2 separate regions of the Homo sapiens genome follow, and region 2 is linked to region 1. The links come from fine-mapping of genetic effects on gene expression. Tissue or cell type: whole blood. Region 1 holds a variant in brackets; the other region holds the start of a gene. All regions are shown on one strand. Distances are between the middles of the regions.

What was found. PIP is the estimated chance that this variant, and not a neighbour inherited with it, causes the effect.
Region 2: it holds the start of GUCA1B, and the variant in region 1 is fine-mapped to the expression of GUCA1B in whole blood (TOPMed, PIP above 0.99).

Annotation. Positions count from the first base shown.
Region 1 is chr6:42,212,679-42,220,859 of GRCh38, reverse strand. MRPS10 (mitochondrial ribosomal protein S10) reads left to right here and starts at 2,999. Exons shown (of 7, transcript NM_018141.4): 1 at 2,999-3,058; 2 at 6,516-6,580; 3 at 6,668-6,740. The coding sequence starts at 3,011. RefSeq lists enhancers at 2,832-3,111, 3,683-4,284, 4,285-4,887. The variant T/C (reference allele first, on the strand shown) is at 3,586.
Region 2 is chr6:42,190,657-42,198,837 of GRCh38, reverse strand. GUCA1B (guanylate cyclase activator 1B) reads left to right here and starts at 3,882. Exons shown (of 4, transcript NM_002098.6): 1 at 3,882-4,224. The coding sequence starts at 4,018. RefSeq lists a cis regulatory region at 439-1,391.

The DNA of each region.
Region 1 (8,181 bases):
TTTGGGAGGCCAAGGTGGGCGGATCAGGAGGTCAAGAGATTGAGACCAGCCTGGTCAACATGGAGAAACTCCGTCTCTACTAAAAATACAAAAATTAGCTGGGCGTGGTGGCGCATGCCTGTAATCCCAGCTACTCAGGAGGCTGAGGTAGGAGAATCACTTGAACCCAGGAGGTGGAGGTTGCAGTGAGCCAGGGTCATGCCATTGCACTCCAGGCTGGGCAACAAGAGTGAAACTCCGTCTCAAAAATAAATAAATAAGAAGTGCACACAGGTGAAGTGTGCTGTTTCCATACCCTGTTGCAAGGCCACACTGGAATCTCTGCCACACCTCAACACGGACTGAATTCTAGTAAACAGAGGCCAGCCTGAGGGGCAGGAAAACTGGTTTCTGCTCCTAGACCTTTTCTATCTCCTAGATAGGTGTGATGTTGGGCAAATCATTCTGCCTCTTCTTTGGTTCTCTTGCCTGCAAAATAGGGTAGTAATAACTATTTGTGGGGAGAAAAAAAAAACAACTTTATATTTGTACAGTTCTTTATTTGGATGCTATAAAATATTCTCATAAACTTGATCTTTTTATTTTTAATCTTCTCAACAACCTTGTGAGGCAGGTGAGGTAGAAACTTAATGGCACAAATAGTGGATGACATCTATAGTGTATCATTACATGGCAGTATTGTACTAAACACCATATATTGGTATTGCATTGAATTCCCAAGCAACTATTGGAAGCAGGAACTACTGTTATCTTTTTTTTTTTTTTTTTTTTGACATATGAGCAAACTGAGGCTGAGGGTAAGGAAGTAACTTGCTCAAAGTCACTCAACTAACTGGTAAGCCTGGGATTAGAAACCAGATCTGATTATAAGGCTAGAGTTTTCCATTAGGCTAAAATGCATATGTGAAAGCACTTTGGGGAAATAAAGCTTAGAAATGTGAACAAATGGGCCAAGTGCAGTGGCTCATACCTGTAAAACCAGCACTTTGGGAGGCCAAGGTGAGAGGATTGCTGGAAGCCAGGAGTTTGAGACCAGCCTGGGCAACATAGCAAGTCTCTGTCTCTACAAAACAATAAAAATAAAATAAAAAATGGTCGCAAACACCTGTAGTTTTAGATACTCCAGAGGCTGTGGTGTGAGGATCACTTAACCCCAGGAGTTTGAGGCTGCAGTGGGCTATGATCAAGCCAGTGCTCTCCAGCCTGGGCAACAGAGCGAGACACTGTCTCACACACACACACAAAAAAGACAATATAGTATTATAGAAGCAGACTTTAAGATGAGGAGAAAGTAAAAGGAAAAATAAAAATAAATTTTTAAAGATTTGCACAAATGGAATAAGTTTTTTTTTTGGAGACGGAGTCTCGCTCTGTTCCCTAGACTGGAGTGCAGTGGTACAATCTCAATCTCGGCTCACTGCACTCTCTGCCTCCCGGGTTCAAGAGATTCTCCTGCCTCAGCCTCCCAAATAGCTGGGATTACAGGTGCACACCACCATGCCTGACTTTGTATTTTTAGTAGAGACAGGGTTTTGCCATGTTGGCCAGGCTGATCTTGAACTTCTGACGTCAGGTGATCCACCCGCCTTGGCCTCCCAAAGTGCTGAGTGCTGGAATTACAGGTGTGAGCCGAGCCACTGCACCTGGCCTTTTCTTTTCTTTTCTTTTTTTTTTTTTTTTTTTAGACAGAGTCTCATTGTGTCTCCCAGGCTGGAGTGCAGTGGCACGATCTTGCCTCACTGCAACCTCCACTTCCCGGGTTCAAGCAATTCTCGTGCCTCAGCCTCCTGAGTAGCTGGGACTACAGGCACACAACGATGACACCCCACTAATTTTTTGTATTTTTAGTAGAGATGGGGTTTCACCATGTTGGCCAGGCTGGTCTCGAACTCCTGACCTCAGGTGATCCGCCCACCTCAGCCTCCCAAAGTGCTGGGATTACAGGCGTGAGCCACCGCACCCAGCCTGAAGAAGTTTTTATTATAGCAAATCCCAGTTATACATCTTTTTACTTGGAAAAAATTATGGTGGACATTAATAATTAGACAAAACACTTTGGCTTGTTGTAAGTGAAGCTAGCCATTGTAAATTCCTAAATACTAGAGTAACATAAGGAAATGAATAATTTAGAAAGATCAGTAGGACAGCGGTATACAAAATGGTTGGAGCACAGGAATTCCAATTGGTGTGGGGAAGGAAGAAAGGATTAAGAACCATAATTAGAAAGCCGCTGCAATAAGGTAACTGAGTGGCAACTGGACCCAATGGTAGTGGCCGACTTTTCTTTTTCTTGTTAAATATAGATTTTGTTAAAATTTTGAAAAATGCAAAAAAAATTGAAAAATGCAAAAATAGGAAAATAAATCACCCATTATTCCAGTACTGAAGTAAATGGTGTCAATACACTAGTTTCAGTCCGGGCTTTGTGGTTCATGCCTGTAATCTCAGTCCTTTGGGAGGCCAAGGCCAGAGGATCACTTGAGGACAGGAATTCAAGACCAGCCCACAAAATAACGAGAGCAATATAATGAGACCCTGTCTCTACAAGAAAATTAAAAAAAAAAACAAAAAATTAGTCGGCTGTGGTGGCACGCACTTGTAGTCCAGCTACTTGGGAGGCTGAGGCAGGAGGATCACTTGAGGCAGGAGTTTGAGGCTGCAGTGAGCTATGACTGTGCCACTGCACTCCAGCCTGGGCAGCCGAGTGAGACTCAGTCTCTAAAAGGAAAAAATAAGTAAATAAATAAATGTGTGTGTGTGTGTGTGTGTATACACACACAACAATTTAAAGGTGAAAACATTAATAGGGCTTGGTAACTATCCAGACACTGGCCGGAGCCAAACCAGCCTGGCCAGCCAACTGTCCCGCCCCCAAAAAGCACAGGTTCATGTCTCTATGGTTGTTCCAGCGCCGGAACATGAGGATGTACTCTCTTCTTTTGCGGAACTCTATGGTCTGAGGACGCCGCTGTAACCCCGGAAGCAATCCTGAGAGGTCGGGACCGGCAAGATGGCGGCGCGGACAGCGTTCGGTGCTGTGTGCCGGCGCCTCTGGCAGGTACTGGATTGGCTAGGGAGACTAGGAGGGCTGACCGGGATAGTTGCTTTTAAGTTTCCCTGCCACCAGCCGCTCTGCCCATCAGGATTTTTCCTGATATTTATCCCTCACCTCGCGCCGTTTACAGGAAAGTGACGAGAAAGGGGCTAGTTTTATCAGAATTCTCTCATGGAATTAAATATAAGTTAGTGAGTCCAGGCAAAGATAGGAACAAGAATAATCGTAGAATGTCAGAGCTGGAAAAGATTTTGTACTTCGTATGTTCCAAAACCCCTCCTTTCACGCTTGCAAAATAAACTGAGGCTCAGAGAAGACAGGAAATTTGCCTCGCGAAAATTAGAGGCTGAGCTGGTGCAAGATATCAGACTCTTCCCATGGAACTAAATTGAGATGCTTTCCTGGCATCCAAATTTAGATGAAGGTCTCAAGCCAGAGAAGTGGGTTAGATATCCTCTGCGCAGTTATTTGCAGGAGGAGCAAAAACTTTTCAGCAGCGGTTCTCCTGCTTTTTGGCCTTGGGACCACTT[T/C]ACACTTTCGGAGTTCAGGACTCCAGAGAGCTTTTGTTTTTGTGGGTTTTTGCTATCTATATTTAGCTTTTTGGAAAATAAAACTTAAGAATATATATTGATTTAAAAGTAACACTAACTCATTACATGTTACAACTAATACTTTATGAAAAATATATTTTCTGAACAAACTGAGTAAGGAGCAGCAATGTTTTACATTTTTGCAGCTCTCTTTAATTTCTGGCTTAATAAAAGCTAGATTCAAATCTGCTTCTGTATTTAATCTTTTCCTATATCACACCTCAGGCTGTCACGGGAAAACTTCACTGTACACTGGTAAGAGAATGAGTGGAAAAGTTGTAAATGACGTTTTGGTTTTATGAAAATAGTTTTGATTTCCCGGATCCCCTGAAAGTGTCTCAGACCCCACAGACGTCCTCAGACTACACTTTGAGACCACCGTTTTTGTTTTTGTTTTTGTTTGGAGACGGAGTTTCGCTCTTGTCGCCCAAGCTGGAGCGCAATGGCACGATCTCGGCTCACTACAGCCTCCACCTCCCGGGTTCAAGTGATTCTCCTACCTCAGCCTCCCGAGCAGCTGGAATTACAGTCATGCGTCACCATGCCCAGCTAGTATTTGTATGTTTAGCAGAGACGGGGTTTCACCATGTCGGTCAGGCTGGTCTCGAACTCCTGACCTCAAGTGATCCGGCAGCCTCGGCCTCCCAAAGTGCTGGGATTACAGCCTTGAGCCACCGCACCCGGCCTGAAAACCACTGTTCTTGAGAAAAGTCAGATGGTATTAGAGATTGAAATTTTTGAACTGCTTTATTAAGACAAATTTACCCAGACAGCCCTCCCTTCCAAACCACCACTCCCCCAACACACACACACACACACACACACACACTCTCTCTCTCTCTCTCTCTCTCTCTCAAGAAATACAAAGAAAAAATGCAATTTAAAAACTTCTTGGCCGGGCACGGTGGCTCACGCCTGTAATCCCTACACTTTGGGAGGCCGAGGTGGGCGGATCACGAGATCAGGAGATCAAGACCATCCTGGCTAACATGGCAAAACTCCGTCTCTACTAAAAATACAAAAATTAGCTGAGTGTGGCGGTGGGCCCCTGTAATCCCACCTACTCAGGAGGCTAAGGCAGGAGACTTGCTTGAACCCAGGAGGCGGAGGTTTCAGTGAGCTGAGAATGCTCCACTGTACTCCAGCCTGGGCGACAGAGCAAGACTCTCTCAAAAAAAAAAAAAAAAAGAAAAGAAAAAAAAAAGAAAAGAAAAAGCAGAGGTTTATAGTGGGAGAATGTGACTGAGAAGTGTAATATTCTTGCTCCTCTTGCACAACTCGATTGTGGGGTCACTGGTGTAATTGTTGGGAGGGAATTTTCTATGCAATTTTGTCTGAAGAATGGCACATACCTCTTACCACTTTGTGTTGTACCTGATTTCCTTTTTCCTTTTCCCCTTTGGTGCAAAGAAGATTATAGAGTTATGATTTGTCTCTATCTTGGGTAAGGAGAGGAAGGACAATAAGCTAAGAATAGGCTTTTAAAACGTGGCTAGGTGGTGGTTCACTCCTGAAATCCCAGCACTTTGGGACACTGAGGCTGGAGGATCGCTTGAGCCCACGAGTTCAAGACCAGCCTGGGAAATATGGTGAAACCCCATCTCTACAAAAGTACAAAATATTAGCTGGGCCTGGTGGCCCGTGCCTGTAGTCCCAGCTATCTGGGAGACTGGGGTGGGAGGACCACCTGAACCTGGGAGGTCCAGGCCATGATCATGCAACTGCACTCCAGCCTGGATAACAGAGTGAGACCTTGTCTCAAAAAAACCCTGAAAAAACAAACAAAAACGTACTTAGGTGACAATCATTTGTATTAATGAAACTTCACTTATGCTAAACTTCTTTTTTTTTTTTTGAGAGGGAGTCTCGCTCTGTCACCCAGCCTGGACCTCCGCCTCCCGGGTTCAAGCGATTCTCCTGCCTCAGCCTCCCAAGTAACTAGGATCACAACCGCACCGCCACCATGCCTGGCTAATTTTTGTATTTTTAGTAGAGACAGGGTTTCACCATGTTGGCCAGGCTGCTCTGGAACTCCTGACTACAAGTGATCCACCCACCTTGGCCTCCCAAAGTGCTGGGATTACAGGTGTGAGCCACGGCACCTGGCCTTATTTTCATCTTCATTGTGTTTTTAAGGATTCTATTGTGTTTCCACTTTCTCAGGTTACACTTCAAAATCTCAGAAAAGTTGAAAGGAAAAAACAGCTGTTATATGTAGTAGTATCGTTTGTTTCCTAAAACTGGAAAGTCTTGTTCCACCAGGGGGAGCTGATGGTAAAGGATTTGGAAATGTGGGTTCGTTGTAGCATGTGGCACAGTAGTTAATGATGGGTATAAGTCACAGCACATATTTCAGTTCATTATAAGCTAGTTATCCCAGCCAAGCTAAGAAATATGTATGCTTTAAAAGATGTATGAAAGCATCAAAAGAGGGATACTTCAGAATTTTTATTCCAACTCTTAACAAATTATAAAAACAATATATTTTATTGCTTAAAGATATTCAGGCAAAATAAGTATTATACTGAAGTACAATTAATTTGTAAAAAATAATGGGAAAATGAAGTCACATTTTTTCTTGATGTCCACATAATTCATAGCTTTTTTTAAATGTGAGAATTGTTTTTTTTGAAAAAGTTTTTATTCCTAATCTTTAAAATAGAGATTCTCTAGTATTTTGAGACTGCTTTTTTTTTTATCATCAGCTCTACCATTGTCCTCTTTTTTTTTTCAATCTAATTTGGCCATTTTAGTTACCCCAGTATCTTCGTCTGAAATAATGAGGTAACCTTTTAGTTTTTAGTGGAAATTATGAATGGTTTGGTAGTTGACTTTAATTCTAACACATGTCCTACTTTTTTTTTCTTTAGGGATTGGGGAATTTTTCTGTAAACACTTCTAAGGGCAATACAGCCAAAAATGGTGGCTTGCTTCTGTAAGTATACAATTGGATGTGCTAAATTGAACAAAATAGGTTCTTGTGCTATTTTACTTAGGTTTCTCTTTTTTTCCCCACACATAGCAGTACCAATATGAAGTGGGTACAGTTTTCAAACCTACACGTTGATGTTCCAAAGGATTTGACCAAACCTGTGGTATGTACTCCCTGTTTCTTGGTATAAGGAGCTACCTTGGCAATAGGTTTTCCTTATTATTTCATTGGGTTTTTTTTCCCCAAACACTCTATGAATAAAAAAATTTTGTCCTAGAATACTGGCAAATGCACAACGCATATATTCTCTTAACTCCCTGGATTATATTGTCTTCAGGGTATCAAAGTAAGTTCTAAAGGAATAAATTATTTACCCCCAAATAACTGTGTTAATTAGTAGTCTCTTGCTTTTAGCTTGGCATAATGGAAGAGTTGTCAGAATTTGTGATGTAGAATACTTGATTTATGTTATGGAAAAGTATTTTTCTTGTAGCCTTCAAGTCTTTGTTTTCATTTTGTGTATTGAGCCTGGGCCTGGACAGTGCTTTATTGTTCACAGTGAGAAAATGCGTTAGCACAAATAATAAACATCTAGAAGGAACTTGGTAACCCTGTAGAAGCTATGATTTCATCAATCCAGTTTTTTGTGTTACTTGTAATTTTTAAAAATCCTTTCATTTCCACCCCTCAAAAATAACCCCCTTTAACAGTTTGGGATTACAGTTCTAGACATTTGTCTGTAGGTACTCACTTTGTCTGTGCACATGTCTAGTTTACTGCTCTTTTCTAACTTTTCTCTTAATAGATATTGGATATTTATTTATTTATTTATTTTGAGACAGAGTCTCGCTCTGTCACCCAGGCTGGAGTGCAGTGGCATGATCTCGGCTCACCTCACCTCAGCCTCCTGGGTTCAAGTAGTTCTCATGCCTTAGCCTCCCGACTAGCTGGGATTACAGGCACACACCACCATGCCTGGCTAATTTTTGTATTCTTAGTAGAAATGGGGTTTTCCCATGTTGGCCAGGCTGGTCTCAAATTCCTGGCCTCAAGTGATCTGCCTGCCTCAGCCTCCCAAAGTGCTGGGATTACAGGCATGAGCCACCACACCTGGCCAGTACTGGATGTATTTCTATGATAGTACATTTAAGCCCCAGTCTGCAACTCACATGCCTGCAGGAGCCAGGCCTATAAGAAAAGGTGGCAGAATTGGCATGGTGTGCCACTGTCTTTATAAGCAAGACAGCAGCTACTTATTCTAGCCACTTGTTGCCCTGTGGGAAATCAGACCTAGTGATGCCAGCCTGTCTAAATCTTCCAAGCTAAACTGAAATCCAGATTTTCTTGTGAAATCTTCTGATTTTTAATATTCCTAACAAATTCAAAGTATCTTTTAACACCCTGTAGGGATCAGTCAGAACACATCTTGAGGCTATATTCCCCCTTCTCATCCCTCAACTTAGGACACAGGCTATCAGTATATTCTGTTCTTCCAACAACCCTTTTTGGAGTAATTGAGAGTGGATATCTAGCTTTCTGGCTAGTAAGTAAATCTTTCAGGAGTGAAGTGATTTAACTCTGAATCATTGGATTAGTAGTATAAT
Region 2 (8,181 bases), 22 kb after region 1:
GAAAATAAGCCAGGCATGGTGGCGTACGCCTGTAATCCCAGCTACTTGGGAGGCTGAGGCAGGAGAATCACTTGAACCCGGTGGGGCAGAGGTTGCAGTGAGCCGAGATCGTGCCATTGCACTCCAGCCTGGGTGACAGAGCGAGACTTCGTCTCAAAATAATAATAATAATAATAATAAAATAAAATCATAATTTAAAAGAAACACCGAGTCTAGATTATGTTCTTTTTTATACCAGTGATAATTATTAATATTTACTTATTTAATATTTTTTCAGTATTTGTATTATGACCCATGAAGGCAAAAACGTGTGGGGCCCGTGAATGTCATAATGTAGCCCTGAATGTGGGGTCAAGGAAGGATTTTTGTCTTGTTTTAATAAAGGCAATATTACAGCACACCTGAATGCTGACGGGAATGATCCATTAGAGAGGGATGAGTGGAGGCTGCAGAAGAGAAAGGGAGTAACTGCGGGAAGGAAGCTTTCGAGTAGGTAAAGAGAGATGTGATCTAGGAAACAAGTGGCGGTGTTGACGGGGACAAGGGGAAGGGCACGCTGCTTCCACTGAGACCGGAAGGGGGCAGAGGACATGGGCACAGATACAGAGAAGTTGGTAAACACTGGTGGGAAGATGAGTCACTGCCTCATCTGTCTCTGTGAAGTGTGCAACAGTGTGGGAGTGAGTGGAAGGTTTGAGGGCAGGAAGCGCTGTGGAATAGTCATCTCAGAGAGGGGGAGAGGGAATTCGGCAGGAAGAGTATGTAGTATGATTGTCTGGCATGATCTGAAGTGCGTACAGCCAGCATGATTTATGATGTCCTCCAATGATGTCCAGGCTCCCCACTGTAGGCAAAGTGTTACTGCATAGTTAGTGAACAGCCTTAACCAGGGCCAGGCCAAGTGAGGCGTTAGGAGGAGAGAGGGGCACAAAAGTCAAAATGGAGAGAATGCTGGGCCATGGAATGAAGATAAGGAGGAGAGTGAGGAGATGAGCAAGATGACAGATGTTAAAAACAGATCAGCAGGTTGGAAGTCGCAATGAGATTAGTGAATTATTGGAGTGAAGGTATTACAGTAACAGATGGAAGGGGTGGGGTGCTGATAACAGACGGCAGCGTTTGAATGTTTCAGAGGTAGTAGAGATTGGTGACAGCAAGGCCTAGGGTGGTGATCCTCAAACTTCAGTACGCATTGGAAGCACCTGGAGGGCTTGTTAAAACACAGACTCCTGGCCCCAGCCCACAGTTCCTGATTCAGCAGGTCTGAGGTGGGGCCTGAGACATTGCATTTCTAGCAAGCTCCCAGATGCTGCACTTGTGGCTCAGGGACCACAAGTGAATGGAAGTACTAGGTAAGGTGGAAGAAAAGCTCTTTGGAACTAAAGAGATCAAGGACCAGGCCAGGCCCGGTGGCTTACGCATGTGGGACCATGCCAGGTTGCCAGCAATTAGAGACTAAGAGGGCAGTGTGACCCCCACACATCTCACTGGGGCCGGGCGCAGTGGCTCATGCCTGTAATCCCAGCACTTTGGGAGGCCAAGGCGAGCAGATCATCTGAGGTCAGGAGTTCGAAACCAGCCTGGTCAACATGGTGAAACCCCATCTCTACTAAAAATAGAAAAATTGGCCGGGCATGGTGGCAGGCACCTGTAATTCCAGTTACTAGGGAGGCTGAGGCAGGAGAATCGCTTGAACCCGGGTGGCGGAGTTCACAGTGAGCCGAGATCGCACCACTGCATTCCAGCCTGGGTGAAAAGAGCAAAAACTCTGTTTCAAAAAAAAAAAAAAAAAAGAGAGAGAGATCAAGTACCTTTGAGGCCAGTGTATGGGATGGGCTGTTTATCCACTTGGAGGTCACAGTCACTGAAATGACTGACATGATGCTTTGAGACAAGCAGGGAAGTCACCAGTGAATGACAGTAATGAGGAGAAGTAAATAGTGGCAAGGAGTCAGATGTGGCTTCAAAGGGACTGGCCTTTTTTGGGGAGAAAAAAGTAAAAGGCCATTTGGAGGCAAGAGTTAGAAGCGAGGAGGACACTAGCCCTGTTATCTAGACCTTGAGGTGTGTGTGGGGGAGAAAAACCCACCACCACTTGAAAGGATGACAGAAGAAATCACATTTCTCCTTCAGGAATAGCAAGAAAGTTAAAAGAGCTTTCAGAGCTCAGTGACGTCTGGAGGCAGAGAACAGTGAGAGAGGAGGTCAGGCCTGGAGATGTGCAAAACAATTCAGGCTGAACACCCAGTGAGGGATGGGTAGGTTAAGGATAGATTCACTGGAACTGCTGCCTCTGAAGTCTTCTAGAAAAATGAGTGTCACTGGGCGTGGTGGCTCATGCCTATAATCCCAGCACTTTGGGAGACCAAGGCGGGTGGATCACTTGAGGTCAGGAGTTTGAAACCAGCCTGGCCAACATGATGAAACCCCATCTCTACTAAAAATACAAAAATTAGCTGGCTGCTGGGTGCATCAAACCAACATGGCACATGTATACCTATGTAACAAACCTGTATGTTGTGCACATGTACCCTAGAACTTAAAGTATAATAAAAAAAAAAAAAAGAAGAAAAAATAGCTGGGTGTTGTGGTGTGCACCTGTAATCCCAGCTGCTCGGGAGGCTGAGGCATGAGAATCACTTGAACCCGGAGGCGGAAGTTGCAGTGAGCCGAGATCACACCACTGCACTCCAGCCTGGGCGACAGAGCGAGACCCTGTCTCAAAAAATAGAAATTTAAAAAAAAAAAGCAAAGAAAAAGAAAAATGTGTGTCCCTGGTCTTTTGATTTCTTGGAGGTGTCATTTTTATGTTACATTAAAATAAGCATGAATATGTAATTGTTCAAAAGCAAATTTTACATGACCTATAATGTAAAAGTAAGAGCCTTCAAAGATATTTTAGGCCATGCTCCCAGATCCTTCTCACATGTTAGTATTTTGGAGGAAATGTGAAAAAGGCACTACCCCTAGGTCTTGTGTGAAGGGTTGGAGGGAGGCATTTGTAGTTTAAATCAGAAAGTGAAAAGCTCCCAAGATGAAAGGTGTAATCTGGAAAGGAGCTTCAGGGACCGAGTTAGCCTGGGAAGAGAGTTGCTCACCTAGAGCCCTTCCCATCATAGATTCTGCCTCTTTTCACTAGACCGTCTGAGGGGCGAGTCCCAGATCACCAGCAGATTCTGTTTTATGGCCTAGGACTTGATCTCACTTCCTCTCTGGATTTGAGTCTCCTGTCTCCAAGATGGGCCTCCCTGAAGCAATGTGAGGCCCAGCTAAAGAGATAGGGAGTGAGTGAGATGGGAGGATCCCAGCCTAGCACCCCGACTCTTTCTTCACTCTGCATCTCTCTGCTTACCTCTCAGTTTCTTCCCCTTCTACCTCTTCAGAGTCTACCAGGGCCAGCTTGGTTGCTTTGTTGACAAGGCTAAGGGAAGGAGTGAGGCTGGAGGAGTTTAGGCTGGAGGTCAGAACTTCCTGGGGAATCTCTTTTTTTTTTTTTTTTTTTTTTTTTGAGACAGAGTCTCACTCTGTCCCCCAGGCTGGAGTGCAGTGGTGTGATCGCAGCTCACTGCAACCTCTATCTCCCAGGTTCAAGTGATTCTCCTGCCTCAGCCTCCTGAATAGCTGGGATTACAGGTACCCACCACCATGCCCAGCTAATTTTTTGTATTTTTAGTAGAGACAGGATTTCACCATGTTGGCCAGGCTGGTCTCGAACTCCTGACCTTGTGATCCACCCACCTCGGCCTCCCAAAGTGCTGGGATTACAGGCATGAGCCACCGCACCCGGCCACCTGGGGAATCTTCTAATAGTCTTAGGGCAGCTTAGCTGGCCTGGACCCACCTCCCTTGCCACCTGCCCCCTGCACCGACTGATCATGTTCAGTCACCCAGGAGATGATGGAGAGGCTGATCAGGCCTCCTGGAAAGGGAGGAAGAGGGCCCTAGTTGGAGAGATCCATCAGCAGAAGCCAGGGAGGAGATACAGACCCTTGCTCCCTGATGCTCCTCAGGGCTAGCATGGGGCAGGAGTTTAGCTGGGAGGAGGCGGAGGCAGCTGGCGAGATAGATGTGGCGGAGCTCCAGGAGTGGTACAAGAAGTTTGTGATGGAGTGCCCCAGCGGCACACTCTTTATGCATGAGTTTAAGCGCTTCTTCAAGGTCACAGACGATGAGGAGGCCTCCCAGTATGTAGAGGGCATGTTCCGAGCCTTCGACAAGAATGGGGTAAGGCACCCTGAAGGGAAGGACCAGTGGCCAGTCCACCTGGCGCCTTCCTCCACAAGTGTCCTCAGGGAGAGCTCCCAGTTCCCCACTCCTCGGCTCTTTCTCTGCTCTTCTTTCCACTCCGTCTCTCTTTACCTTTTCTGTCTCACTCACCAAACCCTTCTGTCTCTTCTCTTCCTTTTGTCCCTTTCCATCTTCTCTGTCTCTCCTTCCCTCCCTCCATCTCTTAGCTGTCGGCTGATGCTCCCTGTGTCCTCTTCTTGAGAGCTGAAGGGCGACTGGCAGACAGTCCAGGTCCTCTCTTTGTGTATTTTTGACCAAGACTCTGCAGCCCAATGACCGGGTTTTCGCATCTGCCAGAGCCCCTGTCACTCTAAACACTAGGAGCAAAAGAGATGTTCTAAATGAGACAAGGTATCTTAGCATGGGCTATGAGCTCCCTCTTGTTGGGGTTCTTCTGAGACTGGTCAGATCCTCCCTGTCAAGAATGCTGGAAGAGGCTCCTGCATGTATTGGGAGACTGGGCGAATGACTGCAAAAGCCCCTTTCAGCTCTTCAAGTCCTGGAAGGTTTCATTAAATCATTCAGACTAGAGTTTCTCTAAGCCCACAATGTCACTAGCAGCTAAGAAGATAACACATCTTGTAAATGCACCAGGGGATTGAATTTTAAATTTCAATTCAGTTAAAAACCCCTTGATTATTTAAGGTTATCCAGTTCAGTGCCCTGGCAATCCTCAAATACCTCAAATACCTCAAATGCCCTGGTATTTGCCTCAAATACCAATTTAATCTGAAGAAAGTGTCAGTTCTCCATTCCTCAGTGCGTGGAGAACTTAGCTTTCTAAGCTGAATCACTGGGAATGCCACTTCAGGTCTCATCCTGTCGCTGGTACCAGTCAGTGCACGTCCCCACAGTGCCTGTCCCGGGACAGGAGGGTGAGGTCAGCACCTTCAATTCAACAGAACCTCCTTAGAGATGAACCCCATCGACCACCCCACAGGGCACAGAGCCAGTTTCGGACTTCTCAGCGCTCCGCCTCTCTTAGGTCTCCTCTGAATCAGCAGCAACCCTGGGTGGGAGGGGCAGACTTTTGTTATTCCAAATTAAATGATGAGAAAGCTGGGCAAAAGGGAATGAATCGATTTGCCCAAGGTCTTAAGTGCTCCTGCCTAGAAGGCAGGTTTTTTAAAGAGAGAAGATGACTTTTTAAAATAATTGATGTTTTTTTAAAATGTAAGAAAAGTAAACAAATATATCAGGTCATAAATAATAAGACTCATTTAAGTCCATCAATCTTCCCCAGATTCATCTAAAAATCAATACGATCATGATTCAAGATCCAAAGGGCTGATTAAGCCCCTAGGCATATAGTTGTACTCCTTATACCTCATCTCTTCTTATAAATCGGCATATGATGTTCATCAATGTTTTTTCCTTTTTGAATAACTTTTTAATTTTACTATGATTCTAAATTTACAGAAGAGTTATAAGAATGATACAAGTAACTCCCATATGCAATTTATCCAAATTTCCCCAGTTATTCACATTTTATATCATTTACTTTATCATTCTGCCTCTCTCTGTATACATACATATATATAATGTATCCTATAAGTATATATACATATACATGATACATAATTTATACATATACTTTTTTTAAGAGAAAGCTATAGATATCATGCCCGTTTATCCCTAAGTATTTCAGTGTGTATTTTCTTTTTTGTTTTTGAGACAGAGTCTCGCTCTGTCACCCAGTGGCATGATTTCAGCTCTTTGCGGCCTCTGATTTCCCAGGCTCAAGGGATCCTCCCACCTCAACCTCTCAAGTAGCTGGGATTACAGGTGTGCACCACCATGCCTGCTAATTTTTGTATTATTTATTTATTTATGTTGGTAGAGATGAGGTCTCGCCATGTTGCCCAGGCTAGAGTGCAGTGGCACAATCTCAGCTCACTGCAATCTCCACCTCCTGAGTTCAAGCAATTCTCATGACTCATCCTCCTGAGTAGCTAGGATTACAGGTGCACACTCCCATGCCTGGCTAATTTTTGTATTTTTAGTAGAAACGGGGTTTCACCATGTTGACCAGACTGGTGTCGAACTCCTGACCTGAAGTGATTTGCCCACCCCGGCCTCCCAGAGTGCTGGAATTACAGGCATGAGCCACTGCACCCGGCCAGGTTTCTTTCTTTTTTCCTTTTTCTTTTCTTTTCTTTTCTTTTCTCTCTTTTTTTTTTTTTTTTTTTTTTTTTTTGAGTTGGAGTCTCGCTCTGTCACCCTGGCTGTAGTGCAGTGGTATGATCTTGGCTCACTGCAACCTCCACCTCCCAGGTTCAAGCGATTCTCCTGCCTCAGCCTCCCCAGTAGCTGGGACTACAGGCGAGCACCACCATGCCCAGCTAATTTTTGTATTTTTAGTAGAGATGGGGTTTCACCATGTTGGCCATGATTGTCTCCATCTCTTGACTTCATGATCCACCCGCCTCGGTCTCCCAAAGTGTTGGGATTACAGGCATGAGCCACCATGCCTGGCCTTCCTTTTTCTTTTTTTTTTTCTTTTTTTTTTTTTGTATGATCATACATTGCATTTACTTGTTGTATCTCCTTAGTCTTCTTTAACCTGGAATCTTTAATCTCAGCTTTTCTTTTTTATTTGACTGTGACATTTTTGAAGACTGCAGCTGAGTTATGTTGTAGGACAGCCCACAACTGGCGTTTGTCTAAATTGGTAGAATTGCCACTGATGTGATGTTGTGTCCTCGGTTCATCATACCATCCGGTACAAGACATCAGTTTGTCCCATCACTGGCGTAGTTAACTTTGATCACTTGGTTAAGGTGGTATCTGCCATGTTTCAACATTGTAAAGTTACTATTTTTTTCTTTGTAATTAATAAGCAACATGTAAGGATATATCTTGAGACTAAGTAAATATCCTATTGTTCAGTCAAATTTTCTACTGGCTTTGGCATCTGTTGATAATTTTCTAACCCCATCACCCCTTCTCTATTTATTAGTTGGCATTCCACTGTAAGGAAGAGCCTCCCTAGAAAGTGTTTTTCAGTTCCTCTCTCAGGGACTGAGCCTTCTTTCCCACTTAGTCTTTGTCTCCAAACCTACACCTGACTCCATTCCCCCTTATATCAAGGAGTGTCATTTCGGAACAATCGGTCTGAGATTTCTAAAGCAAATCCAATCAAAAGTGTTTATAGATGTGGTTCACACGTGAAAATGTGAGGTGATGGAAACCGGTTTGGTGGGGACAAAAAGGTAGGAACACCTCGTCTCTGCCACTCTCCCTTGCAACTCTCGTGGTTGCCCTATGACCGCCTGGAATGGAAGAAAGGGGAGGGTGAAGATCAGATGTCATTTAGGATTCTTATATAACATGCATTGAAGTCAGGGCTGGTGCACAAATATGGCCAATTCAAGGAGAAACAGGGCAGATAATCCCACAGAGCCGGTGACACGCCCATCCTATTCCTGAGTAGACAGAGCCATTTCCATCACTCTCAGGCCTCTGTGGGTAATTGGAGCTGACAAGGTCCCATGCATAGCAGATGAGATTAGTCCCAGCTGGACGTTTCCCAGAAATGGTCCTGGGGTTTCCAGTAACCTCTCAGATGAGATCACTTGTCTAGAGATCACTCTGGAATATGTCTCATATAAGGCAAGGAGTCATGGAAACTGAATCATGTTGAGAGAGGATGTTGTAGGAATAGAAGCTTCTGGACAAAGAATGAGGAAGACTCTGGAGATCTAGAGAGTGGGGATTTGTGAGTGGTTTCAGGTTTTGTTTTTGTTTTTCTTCTCTTGGCACCCCCAAGCACTAGGCTTATTTGCTGGACAGAAATAGATCTTAAGTGGAGACTGCAAGTTCTTCCGACGTGATGCACTGGAGGAGATGCATGCCTGGAAAAGCTCTGCCACTTGCTGGCTGGGTGGCCTGGGA